Regions from separate parts of the Homo sapiens genome. Here regions 1 and 2 are each reported to be linked to region 3. The links are microRNA targets in miRTarBase. Many come from high-throughput screens and were not tested one by one. Region 3 holds a microRNA gene; each other region holds the end of a gene's coding sequence.
What was found. The annotated mature microRNA hsa-miR-3192-3p reads CUCUGAUCGCCCUCUCAGCUC and lies in region 3 at 2,826-2,846, shown strand. An mRNA with a match to its seed (bases 2 to 7 or 8) in the 3' UTR can be bound and repressed. Matches are read on the target gene's strand: a 7mer-m8 pairs with bases 2 to 8, a 7mer-A1 pairs with bases 2 to 7 and ends in A, and an 8mer does both.

Region 1: miRTarBase lists SERP1 as a target of hsa-miR-3192-3p. Seed matches in the 3' UTR shown: 7mer-A1 at 1,705-1,711 and 7mer-A1 at 2,513-2,519.
Region 2: miRTarBase lists IKZF4 as a target of hsa-miR-3192-3p. Seed matches in the 3' UTR shown: 7mer-A1 at 931-937.

Annotation. Positions count from the first base shown.
Region 1 is chr3:150,541,046-150,545,289 of GRCh38, reverse strand. It overlaps SERP1 (stress associated endoplasmic reticulum protein 1), which reads left to right. Exons shown (of 3, transcript NM_014445.4): 3 at 792-3,292. The coding sequence ends at 832. Among named protein-coding and RNA genes, the nearest start is that of SERP1, 3.3 kb to the left of the region's middle.
Region 2 is chr12:56,034,780-56,039,023 of GRCh38, reverse strand. It overlaps IKZF4 (IKAROS family zinc finger 4), which reads right to left. Exons shown (of 8, transcript NM_022465.4): 8 at 589-4,244. The coding sequence ends at 3,693. Among named protein-coding and RNA genes, the nearest start is that of RPS26, 5.0 kb to the left of the region's middle.
Region 3 is chr20:18,467,837-18,472,080 of GRCh38, forward strand. It overlaps MIR3192 (microRNA 3192), which reads left to right and starts at 2,779; the gene lies at 2,779-2,855. POLR3F (RNA polymerase III subunit F) reads left to right here. Exons shown (of 9, transcript NM_006466.4): 2 at 1,108-1,225.

The DNA of each region.
Region 1 (4,244 bases), not on the chromosome of region 3:
ATTGAGTATATTTTATAAAATAAAGCTTGTGCAAAGAATTGATTCACTATAGAGGAAATTACCTGATTGGCATTTTAATGTGTGAGTCAAATGTTTTTAGGTTAATAAAAGAAACGTTTGATACATGGTTTAAAAAAAAAGTGTCGGGGTAGCCTGCTGTCCCCTAAGAGTAACAGACACTTGCCTTTGCAAATAGATTACAAAAAAAAGGTCTTTCCTCTCTTCATTTATCATTTTAATATGCAAGCTGTTAATATTGAAGTAGATGTTTGTTTTCCACATTCTAAAATTACTGAGATTTCTGTTTAACGTTTCACTTTGCCTTTCTTCTTCACTTACCAATTGGAAGCTTTCCTGATAAATGGATGAGAGCCAAGCAGTTTATATAACCTGAAGATGATTGAATTTCAGCTTTGTGAGAATGAGGAAACATGCATGTGTTACAGGCCAGGCCTTAAAAGGATGCTTATAAACCAAAATAATTCTATGCTGGAAAAACCTGTTGGCTTTGGTGCTTTAAGTTCTTTGTAAAATGATTACTTATCTGCAAGTTCTCTTGGATACTTAGACATAAAGTTCAGCGAAGCTAAGATAAAAAAATAACTCAGGGATATTTCATTGTTTTATTTATTCAGACAGGCCTGTCTTCACTTCTTATTATACTGAAGTTATGTACCATTTGCAAATGTAAGAGTACCTTTGGATTCTTCAGCTACCTTAATAAATATTTGTTAGACACCAGACCTATTTTATTCAAAGCTTATTTTAATATTTGCTCTTTCTTTTTACAGCAATTTTCCAGATTATTCAAAGTATCAGGATGGGCATGTGAAGTGACTGACCTTAAGATGTTTCCATTCTCCTGTGAATTTTAACTTGAACTCATTCCTGATGTTTGATACCCTGGTTGAAAACAATTCAGTAAAGCATCCTGCCTCAGAATGACTTTCCTATCATGCTTCATGTGTCATTCCAAGGTTTCTTCATGAGTCATTCCAAGTTTTCTAGTCCATACCACAGTGCCTTGCAAAAAACACCACATGAATAAAGCAATAAAATTTGATTGTTAAGATACAGTAGTGGACCCTACTTATTCAGTCAATTAAGAGTAAGTTTTTTTATGTGGTTATTAAAACAGTATGAACAATTAGTCTAACTCTGCATAGACAGGGTCTAGATTTTGTTAACCCAAATGTATAACTGCAGTTAGCTTAAATTACAATTTGAAGTCTTGTGGTTTTTATATAGCTAGGCACTTTATTACTCTTTTGAACTGAAAGCACACTCCCTTATAGGTTCATGTAACTGTCCTGTAATAAGGTGCTTATAAATGGAACAACTACACAGCCTAGTTTTGCCACAACCTTTAGCATCTAAAAAGTTTTAAAAGCTTCTAAATGTCTAATATAAAGGGAGATGCTTATAGCCACAACATCTATTTTACCAATATTGTTTCCATTACACTACCTTGGATTTTGCATGAGTGAGTATAGTAACCCAAGATGCCATAAAAAAAAAACTTGATCGTTTTCTGACTTAATCAGTTACTGTGGTTTCACTAAAAGCTACCGTGGTGGAGTGAAGTCAGTCAGGGAAGGTTTGTTTATGTTACATTTATTTCACCAGAACTATTTTAATATATCAAAGGGGTTTACTATGCCAAACAAAATTCTAGGGAAAAATACTGCTAAAAATGGATGCCTCATCAGAACATGCTGTTGAGTCCAATGTGCCATAAGACATTTTAGCATGTTAAATAGCACTTTTAATAGCAAAAAAAGGCACATCAACTGCGAAGTTATCCTTAGTTTGCAAATGCTTTTTCTAGATTAATGATTTTTCAATCATTAGGGTACTAGACACATCAGCCTAAAGTGGCATCTGGAATTGAATGGATTTACTGATAATGATCAGTCTTTAGTCTTCCCTTTGTTATATGACTTTATAGGTTATGATTGATCAAATTTACGTTTTACTAATGGTAAGGGTGAGGGTCATAGGGCAGGTTTTGGGTTTTCTAGTACTGTTGAAAACTGCAAGTATTGGCTATTTGTATACTTAGCCATAACTTGGTGAAAAAAAACCTGAGCAGTGTCTATGTATTAATGCGTTGGAAAGAAAGCTGCTTGTGTTTGCTTTGTTAATTGCCTCAGGATATTTCTTTTAAAATAAGCTGTTTTAAGAGGAACAGAAGGGAAATCTGCTACCTAGTCTATACACAGCGTGAACCTCACAGGGGGCTTCTGATACCCTCAAACATGGAGAACAGTAAGGGAGCAGAGTGGTTAAGGACTTTCAGGAACTTAACTATTCTGGAATAAGGAATGAATCAACTGACCTTGGGCCAGCAGGTTTTTAACTAAATTGTTACTTGCCTTTCTCACCCAGTTAATCAGTCTCTGTACTTGTTTCCCTTTTTGAAACAAGTGTCTTGGTTAACTAATTCTGTTTTATGGTTGTGCTAAATTCATAGCAGGTGCCTTATTCTTTGCTTTTAGTCAAACCATTCCATATCAGAATTTTCCTTGGTTTACTATAGATATTTGGCTTTAAGTTGTTGTTTGTGTTTTTTAATGTACAATGTTCTGATAAATTTGACTGTTAAATTGCTATAGCTAGCAATCATTTTACATATGTAAAATTGCATTCCCTTTGTATTTCATGTGTAATTCACCAATTAAGTGCAGTTTATATTCAGGTTGGATTATGCATGTTTAGGTAAACGAAAGCTGTGTCTTACTTGATTTATTCTTTAAAAATAAAGTTCCCTGAATATTTGATGCTTTTCTTCTAAACGGAAATGATTTTACAGTTATCTGAGTGTACCTTTTATAGTTAGTAGAAAATGATTTTAAAGAATGTTTAGTATTGTACTTAAATGGTATGCAGAGGCACAGATGTAAGGTTTATAACTGGAAATAGGTGGTAAGAAAAATATATAGAAAGCACAATGATTTGAATATTTTTCCACTTAGGATTTCCTAATCTCCTTGTCATCCAATTCAAGCTCAAGATGAAGCACAATTCTTTGATCTCCCTTTGCCAGTTGAATTTTATAGATCATCTAATGTTGAGCACAGTATGAGAATAAATATTGGGGTTGTCAACATTACTCAGTTACTCTTTGTGGTTTAACTCTAACATTTCAACAAGTTGTCAATTAATTGTATCTGTTGGGTTGTATATAATGTTGCTCAAAATAATTAAGTGGACTTCCAAAAATAAGATTTCCATTGTAACAGGATGCATTGTGATGGGCTTTGACTTACATTAAAGAAATGTGGATAGTCAACTGCAGGGCCATGACTCTTCTCACTGAGGTTACTGGAGTTCTGTTGGTACAAAGGACAACCATGGAGAGCTGGATTATGTTCCTGGGCTTAGTAGGTTCACCAGCAAAACTTTATTATGCTTCATTTGTGAAACTTAGAGCATCAGATTCTCCATTTAGAAATTGTTCTTAAGTTTGATTTGCCTTTACTTGCCTTTGTAGTTTTTAAATTTATTTTTTAGATGCAAACCGTAACTTCAAGAGGTAGGAGTTGATTGGCTTCAACAGCAAACTCTATGGCACTCCCTCAGAGAAGCATTTCCTGTCTAAACTTACTTAGTACCACAGTAGCTACTTGTACTACTTTATTTTCAAATTGAATTAGGACACATGTCCTTATTTAGAAAGAGGATTAATGAGCAATAAAAGGCTAGAAATTAAGGGAAAAATTAACTGCCTAGGCTTAGGTAATTCAAAGTAAATATATATCACAGAAACAAAGAAGGGACATGGAAAATTTAATCCAACTGCTTCAATTCGCAGATTAACAAAAACATGCATTTTAGTCAGTGAACAACTTATATGCCAGGTATGGAACTGTGAATACATAGTCCTGACACTGAAATATCTCAGACCAGTAGAGAAGGAACAGACAAAATGAAAGCATAACTACAATTGTAATAAGTATGTCAAAGGACAAGTAAAGCCAGATAAATTTTTTTTGTTGTTTTTTGTTTTTTTCAATCACAGAGCTAATTGGGGGAGAGCAGAAACGAACCAAAGTTTCTTGTACTTTATGGTAATAGGAATGATTGCAAAACTTACACTTAGAACACTTCTGTTTTCACGAGCTCTTTGCTTCTGCTTTTACAGAAATTCTTTAATTTTTTTTTAATTGCCAATTCGAAGGAAAAAGGAATCTGTCCTTTTATGGGTGCATTTAAAAAAAACTAGTGACAAATTTACTAGTGGT
Region 2 (4,244 bases), not on the chromosome of region 3:
TATTTAAGACAGAAACAAATTTATGTTCCTACTTTGGATTTTTCTAGCTTAGGGGTTTCACTGGCTGCATTCCCTGGCATAAAGCGATGAGCACATGCTTTGGATCACACACCCCTGGGTTCAAATTCTGGTTCTGTCACTTACTGGCTGATGAGCCTTGGATAAGGTATTTATTCTCTCTTGGGCTTTTATTTTTTTACCAATAATTGTGATCATCCTTTTGTAGGTGTTTCTACAATTCAATGAGTACTTAGCATTTATGAGATGCTCAAGCAGTGGTAGACCCTATGATTGTCATCATTCGCATTATTTCACCCTGGGCATAGAATGTGTTTTGTGCACAGTAGGTACTCAACAAATGTTTGATTAATTTCTACTTTGGGTAGACAGGCAAGTCAGACTTTCTCTCCTATCCTGAAGGCACTCCTTCCTGGTAGGAAAATCTCCTCCATTTCCCAGTCTAGGCTGAAAATTCTTCGTTTTTGTTTACCTCCTAAACTGTTCAGTAGTTGGTATAACATACTGCAAGGAGGACCCCTCCCTCTTAGTAGAAAAGCAAGGCAAAGGAAGTCTGCAAAAACAACCAGAGGTGTTAAATTACTCATGTTTATTTATAACAGACTTTCAGCCAGTACAGTACAAAACTTACAGTAGTATATCTCCGTTACACAAATATTTACTTACAATATATTACATATACAAAATGCTTTGCAATAAGTCTCAAAAGCTAGTTTAACTCCCCTTGAGAAAGGAGAAAAACTCTTTAAAAAAGGGGGGGAGGGGAATCAGAAGAAGAGAGGAGGAGGTGAAGGGGTAAAGGTCAAAAGAGACACCAAACATAGGCTACAAAGGAAACCCTAGGAGAGAGGGAGAAGAGAGGTGGTATTGCACTTGCTTCTGTGTTTATTTTTTCTTTTTGTTCTTCATAACTTCTGATTAAAAATATATATATATATGTATATATATATATTATGTACACAAGGAAAGAAGCTGCCAGAAGTATTACAAAATCCTATCTGCAGCTTGGACACTGACACAAAAAAACAAAGGTCTGGAAAAGTGTCTACTTAGAAATATTTTGTTGGTGGTATTGATTTTGAATAGCAATATAAAAGGAAACACCTCTTTTCTCCATGTGGGTTTCAGTGTGTGTGTATTTTTTTTTCTTTTTCTTTACTTTTTTTTTTATGCAAAAGGAGCTGGGAGAGAGCATGAGGATGTTTGAGGTTCCAGAGCTGGAAGGCTCTGAAAAGTAGGATTTTGTACCTAAGACCCTGGTTAAAGTGCAGTGATGGTCTGGAGAGAGACAGGATGCCCCCTCTCCCCTCCTTAGCACCTGGTCTTGCCCTTCCAGTCTCTGCTCTCATGGGCACAGAGTATAGCCTCAGAGCATAGTCCTTCATGTTCCGGGAGGTTACAGGTGCCACAGTTGACTGGGGAAGGGGATGGGGGCACCCTAAGGCTCTGATACCCCAGAAGGGACTAGTCCTTATGAAGTGTCACCAAATACACAGCAGACACAGAAGAGGTGGGAGGCGGTAGGTCTAACAGGAAGGGCTCAATAACCAGAATAGTTCAGGAAAAGCCCAGATATTAATCTCAGCTCTGCTGACATTCTAAAAAGGAGCTAGCACCCCAGGGTGCCGTTGAGGATTCTTCCTTTCTCTAGAGACTACTCTGCTCTGAGCTAACCTCCCCATTTTCTGCCCTTGGCAGCATCTATTTATTGCTACATTGTCAAGGAGGAACAATTGCCCCACAATGCTTCTCCCTGCCAATCTGGTTCTCTTGGGGAAACCTCAGAGTGGGGGAGAAAAAGGAGGACAAAGAGGAGAAAGTTTTTTAGGGTCTCCCTTCCCATAAGAAGGCAAGGTAGACTCCTCTCAGAGCCCTTAAGGCCCTAATCCCAGGGTCTGTTCCTTAGCCCACCCTTTACCATCCCCCCCCAAAATATCCCTGATAGGGAGTGAGAAAAGTAGGAGGTAAAAGAGCCAATAAGGAAAGGACATGTGGAAAGAAAGATGGAAGGGGAAGGAAGGGAAGAGAAAAGGAGAGAGAGAAGGACCAAGAGTTACAACTTGTGAGGTGTTGTGTTTGGTTTTTACTTTTTTTTTTCTTTAAACATAGAAAAACAGCCTTTGGTTTGAATCTCAAGGAAGCAGAGAGTGGGATGGCTGTGGCCTTGGGCAGAAAACTCTTGTAGAAAGAAACCTCCACTTGCAGTGGAGTTGTATCTCCTTCTGCCCCTTCTCACTAATCCTAGGTTACTCAAATAGCCAAGGGTCTCTGCAGTAGCCAGCAGTCCCCCCTCCTACCCTGTGTCTGGGAGCTGAGTGTAGAAGGGGGTAGTAAAGGAAGACCCCAGTTCAGTTGTACCCATCCCAGTCTTGCTGGAACAAGGGTGGAATGGGGTGAAGGGCACGTGCCCGTGCTCATGCTGGGATAATTTTTGGTTATACTGAAAATTAGAAGAGAGAAAAGAGATACCCGTTTCTCCCTGCCACTGATCCTAAGAACAGGGCCCAGGAGCCCGGGAATGAGAGGGTGAATCCTGCTGGGAGGGAGCAGCAGAAGGCAGCATGACTGAGGGGCTGAAACAACCCCTTGTCATCAGGCAGCAACCCACTAGTTTCTCATAGGATGGGGACTGAAGGAGCCCCTGAGAGCCTAGGAAGGTCACTATAGTGAAGAAGTTTGAGAGGTGGAGGAGAAAGAGAAGAATTTTGACCCACTCCTTTCCCATGCCCTGGTTCCCAATTAGGCACCTGTGGCTCCCAATCTGTCAGAGACAGAGGGTTGCAGACCTAGCCTTGGCCCCTGAGAATATAAAATTGGGGCACTCCAAGGAGAGAAAAGCCACCACTTAATAGACCGGTAGGTTGAAGGGACTAGAGCGTGTGGAGGGGTAGTTCAAGGAGAGGGACCAGATCTATCACATCCTAGAGGGAGATCCTGAATGTAGGCTTTGAGAACTCATATTACTAGGGGAATATGACCTATTACTAGGGGAATAGGACTCTCAGTCCCACAGTGCCTGGGGAGAATTTCTTCAGTCCCTCCTACTTCCAAATGAGGAAATAATTCTTCATTCATTCAAGAATAGTGCAAGCTGCCTAAAGTGAGAGGGCACAAGAGGTATGGAGTACCAGGTTGAAGAGTCCCAGAGAGGAGATATAATGCCACAGAGCTAAGGTAGGGCCGGGGGCAGGTATCAGCATCAAAACTGAAGAATTAGATAATGTAAAGGGTGAGGACTTAAAGCAAGAAGCTTGAAGTCTCTTAGTACTAAGAGGAGCTTCCTACCCCTGGGGCTGCTGGAAGATCTAAGAGAGAAAAATTGGCCTAAAGTGGAAAGGAGTTGTGGACAGGAGGGTGGGGGAGTGGCAAGTGACTGATATAAGTTAAAATTTAAAAAGGCAAAAATAAATCAACTAATTAATAAATAACTCAGTATGCTGGGATGAGAGAAGATAAAAAGGAAAAACATAAGCAAAAGATCTGTTTCATCACAATGCTTACATCGGTCAGGATAGAGGAAGAGAATAGGTGAGGAGGGGTCAGGGTCAGGTGTGAGGTCAGGTGGCCAGTAGTGAGGGCTACAAAGCAAAACTCCTTGGGAAATGGTGGGGACAGGGATCAATGCCTGTAGTCAGGGCAGTGGAGTGGTGGACTGAGGAGAGAGGGAGAGGTTGCTAGCCCACCTTATGCTCCCCCCGGACAATGTGGGAAGAGAATTCGTACCGGTCCTGGCTGTGATAACCACAGATGTTGCACTCAAAAGGGTCTCTGAAGCCATGGCAGCCCATGTGGATAGTGAACATGACGTGGTCCAGGAAGAGGATACGGCAGTGCTCACACTTGAAGGCCTTCACAGGCTCACCACTCTCGCCCACCACCCGAAGCACTTCCTTGGAGGGGCCTGGGGTGCCCCGCAATAACCCCTCCTGTGGCTTGGGGTCCTCTTTGGCGTAGGCAGGACTGTGCCGGCCCACCACAATGGTGGGAGGTGGCTGGGGTGGGGGACCCTGAGGGAGGGATACCACCCCCGCAACCCGATCTTCGTGGTTGCTTTCTGTGTCTGTGGAGTCCTGGCAGCCATTGCTGGGGGATGCCCCAGGGTCAGTCAGGGGGCCTCGGGGCCGGTAGAGGAGGGGACCTCCATCAGCCAGGTCCTCAGGTCCCTCACCTGCTTCTCGGGATCCTGGAAGCTCCAGTCGACCAGGGAGGGGCTGCATCTGGGTGTA
Region 3 (4,244 bases):
CTTCCTACTTTGACGCGATCAGTGCTTTGAGAGGAGCCCTCGGCTTTCTTTCCCTGTAGAACACTTGTGAATACATGTTCTGATCCAGGATCGCTCTTGTCACTAAGGGAACGTCTATGACAAAACGTTTAGGCGGAGTTAGGGCGCAGTTGGTGATTACGAAGTAACATTAAGCCAGGTGGTTTCAGTGCAGTATTGAACTCAAGACTTTTAGGACACCCAAAGCCTCTGCCACTTTTATTTTTATTTGTTTGTTTGTGAGACAGAGTCTCGCTCTGTCGCCAGGCTGGAGTGCAGTGGCGCGATCTCGGTTCACTGCAATCTCCGCCTCCCGGGTTCAAGCGATTCCCCTGCCTTAGCCTCCCGAGTAGCTGGGACTACAGGCTCGCGCCACCACGCCCAGCTAATTTTTTATGTTTTAGTAGAGACGGGGTTTCACCATGTTGTCTGGGATGGTCTCGATCTCCTGACCTCGTGATCCGCCCGCCTCGGCCTCCCAAAGTGCTGGGATTACAGGCGTGAGCCACCGCGCCCGGCCCAGTTTTATATTTTACCGAGGCACTGCCACTCTTAGATTTTCACGTAGTTTTAAAAGACTCAACTTTCTCAGACTGTTAGGAATAATACATTTGTTGATGTCGACTAGGTGAAGATTTTGACTTTTTTTGTTTGGTAGGTATAATTCCAAAAACAGGCCCCATTATGGTGAATTGTCATAACAAATTTTGGCTTCCTACCAGAAACATCTGCATTTGCCTCCTGCTTGCAGATTTATGGCTTAACTTTGTCATGCTTATTACACCCGAGAAAACTGAAGTCTCAGCTTTAATATTTTTTCTGTGATTTCATTAGACTTTTGCTCTAATTTAAAGTTCTTATTAGTGAGGAAAAGAAATATTCTTAAATAACAATAATACTGTAAACATGTATTTAGAAATCATCTTCTTCAATTTCTAACATGCTTTGATCCAAAACCATCACAGAAACCCAGATTGTCTGCCAAATGTGAAAAAGGCACAGTTTCAAACTATTCTACTTGTATTTTTACCCCCACTGTCTCTTGAAACAGGTAACCATGAAGGATAACATTAATACCTTTGTTTCTAGGATTATAGAATTATGTCACCAGTTCCCTCATGGAATCACAGACCAAGTAATTCAGAATGAAATGCCTCATATAGAAGCCCAGCAGCGGGCAGTAGCCATCAATAGGTTGTTGTCTATGGTAAGGTGAATCTAACTATTTTGCATAATTACTGATATGCTGATTATCACTGGTTTTTATTATGTAGTTGTGATGGTTAATTTCATGTCAACTTGACTAAGATACAGGATTCCTACATATCTAGTTAAATATTTTATTGGAGTGTCTGTGTGGGTGTTTCTGAAAGAGGTTAGCATTTTGAATTGGTGAACGGAGTAAAGTAGATATGGGTCCAGTTGGGTGAGCATCATCCAATCCATTCAGGGCCTAAATAGAACAAAGTGGCAGAGGAAGATTGAATTCACTCTTTGAATTCAATCTTGAGCTGGGCTATGAATCTTGTGCCCTCAGCACTCCTGGTTCTCAGACCTTCAGACTTGGACTGGTATCTACACCATCAGCTCTCTGCTCTCAGCCCTTTGATCTGCAACACCAGCTTTCCTGGGTCTCCAGCTTGCAGAGGGCAGATGATGGGACTCCTCAGCCTCCATAATCACAGAGCAAATAGCTTCTGATGAATCTTTCAAGAGGGAGGTGTATCCTATTGGTTCTTTTTCTCTGGAGAACCCTAATACAGCAGTCATAAAACGAGAAAGTGTGTTAGGTTTGACTGATAAGACTCTAAACCAGGAAACAGCTCAAACTACCTGAATTGAAAAAAGAAGAAATAATTATGCGTTATAAGACAAATGAAATAAATGTATTATGGTATAACTGTTGTATTTATTAATTGCCACTGCCATACATAGGTCTAGTCTGTTCTCACCTTCTGTTTGCTTCCTACTGCTGGTGTTGGGCCATTTCCCATAAAATATTCCACCCCCCGATTTTCCTATGAGTTGTCACAGAGCCCAGTCATCAGGGTTTCATTCTCCACATTGTCACTCTGAGCATTTCAGGAAGCAAGAATGAGTCCAGTTGAATGAAGAATGTTGGGCTTTGGGGAGGAAGTGCAGCCTTAGCCCCCAGTGACATTGCAATGGAATTTATCAGTGAAGCCATTCTCCATCTGTCCAGAAACAAACAAGCAAGACTGTCTAAAAACCCACCAAGTGGTGCCGATGCTCTAAATCTCCCTTACTTTCCCTCATCACCAAAACATCCTTTTCCTAAGAGCATTTCAGTTTGGCTTTAGTAGCAGTTAGGTTAAAGAGTTCTACGCCAAGGCCTCATCTGAATGACTGATTTGTTTTTTAAGTCTACTAGCCTTGTTGGATTTCCAAGGGCTCTGGATGTGGAGATTTGGGGTCCGATGAATCTTTTCTTAAACCTTTCCCATCAATTTTCTAGCTCAGGAGTTGGCAAACTTTTTCTATAAAGTGCCAGACAGTATATGTTTTAGGCTTTGTGAGCCATATGATTTCTGTCACAACTACACTGTCATTTTAGCAAGAAGCAGCCATGGATGATGATACATAAACAAATGGCTACAGCCATGTTCCAACAAAACTTTGGTTATAAAAACAAGCTGTGGAGCAGATTGCTCACCCCTGTTCTAGCCCAAGGACAAAGGAATGTTGCTGATTTCTAGTTATTTCACTGTGGTGAAGGTCTTCAGCTCTAGGAAAGACAGAGGAAGGGATTCTGGGAGGTTGTAGCAGTGGAAAAAGTTCTTTTCTTCCTCTGATCGCCCTCTCAGCTCTTTCCTTCTGACTGAAAATCATCTTCAGCACCTCTCTTTTACCACCTCTGCCACCACCCACCCACTGCGAGTCCTATTGGCTATAGGTTGTATGCAGGCAGTAGTAGAGCTATCAAAGGATATTAAGAAAGGGAGTGATTATTAATAAATCATGTAATGTTTCTGATTTTAGCTCTTAAAAACAGTTCTTAAATTTGCTGTCCACACCCCCTCCATTTCTATCCCTGGTACTGCATCATGTTCAGGCTCATGGCTTTTACCTGGACAGCTGCAGTAGCATCTTAACTGGTTTCCATGACTCCATCTGTCTCAGAGAAGCCAGCCTGATTTGGGATTACAGTCATGAGCCACCGAGCCTGGCCCCTGATCTGTCTTAAATGCAGGTCTGACCAAGGCACTCTACCACCTACAATTTGTTTATACTGGAGATTCAAGTTCAAACTCCTGGGTTTCCCACACTGAGTCCCTGCATTGTTCACCAGCCTCATCTCCACCACTCTACTTCAAAAGTTAGGTTTCAGGAGGAGCAGATTGTTTTTGGTTTCTGGCCACATCATGCTGTTTCGTGCCACAGGACTCATGTTGTTCCCCTGCTTAGAAGGTTCTTCTTATTCTTTACAGATGACTAACGCATTAGGACTCAACTCTGCCATTGTCTCCAGGAAGTCACTGAACCCCCCCAGGTTGGGCCGCAGCCTGTTCTCCGAGTACCCAATCTGGGAGTTCAGGGTGGCTTTACTTACCTCTATCTTAATGCCAACCAGATGGGTATTGAAGTCACCTGTGTGTTTCCCTTTTAGAATTAATGTTGTTCCCCCAAACACCTATCATAACACCTGGCACAGTACAAGTATTCAGTAAATATTCATAAGCTGGATAAATGACCAGAGCCTCTGGATTGGGCCTTGTAGTCCTACTTTGCCACTTCGTGGGGTCAGGGAACAGGAGTGTGTCACTGTTCATTCAGTATGTAAATCCATTTCCAAGTCATGAGTGTCTGTTTTAAAACAAGGGAATGGGCTGGGCACAGTGGCTCCTGCCAGTAATCCCAGCACTTTGGGAGGCCGAGGTAGGCGGATCACTAGAGGCCAGGAGTTCAAGATCAGCCTGGCCAACATGGCCTAACCCTATCTCTACTAAAATACAAATATCAGCGTGGCATGGTGGCATACACCTGTAATGCTAGCTACTTGGGAGGCTGAGGCACGAGAATCGCATGAACCCGGGAGGCAGAGGTTGCAGTGAGCCGAGATTGTGCCACGGCACACCAGCCTGGGTGACAGAGTGAGACTCTGTCTCTAAATAAATACATAAATAAACAAGGGAATAGCGTCCCTCTCAACTGTGGCTTTCTAGTACTTCCAGAGCCTAGTGGTATAATTATCTGGGTTCTCTTAA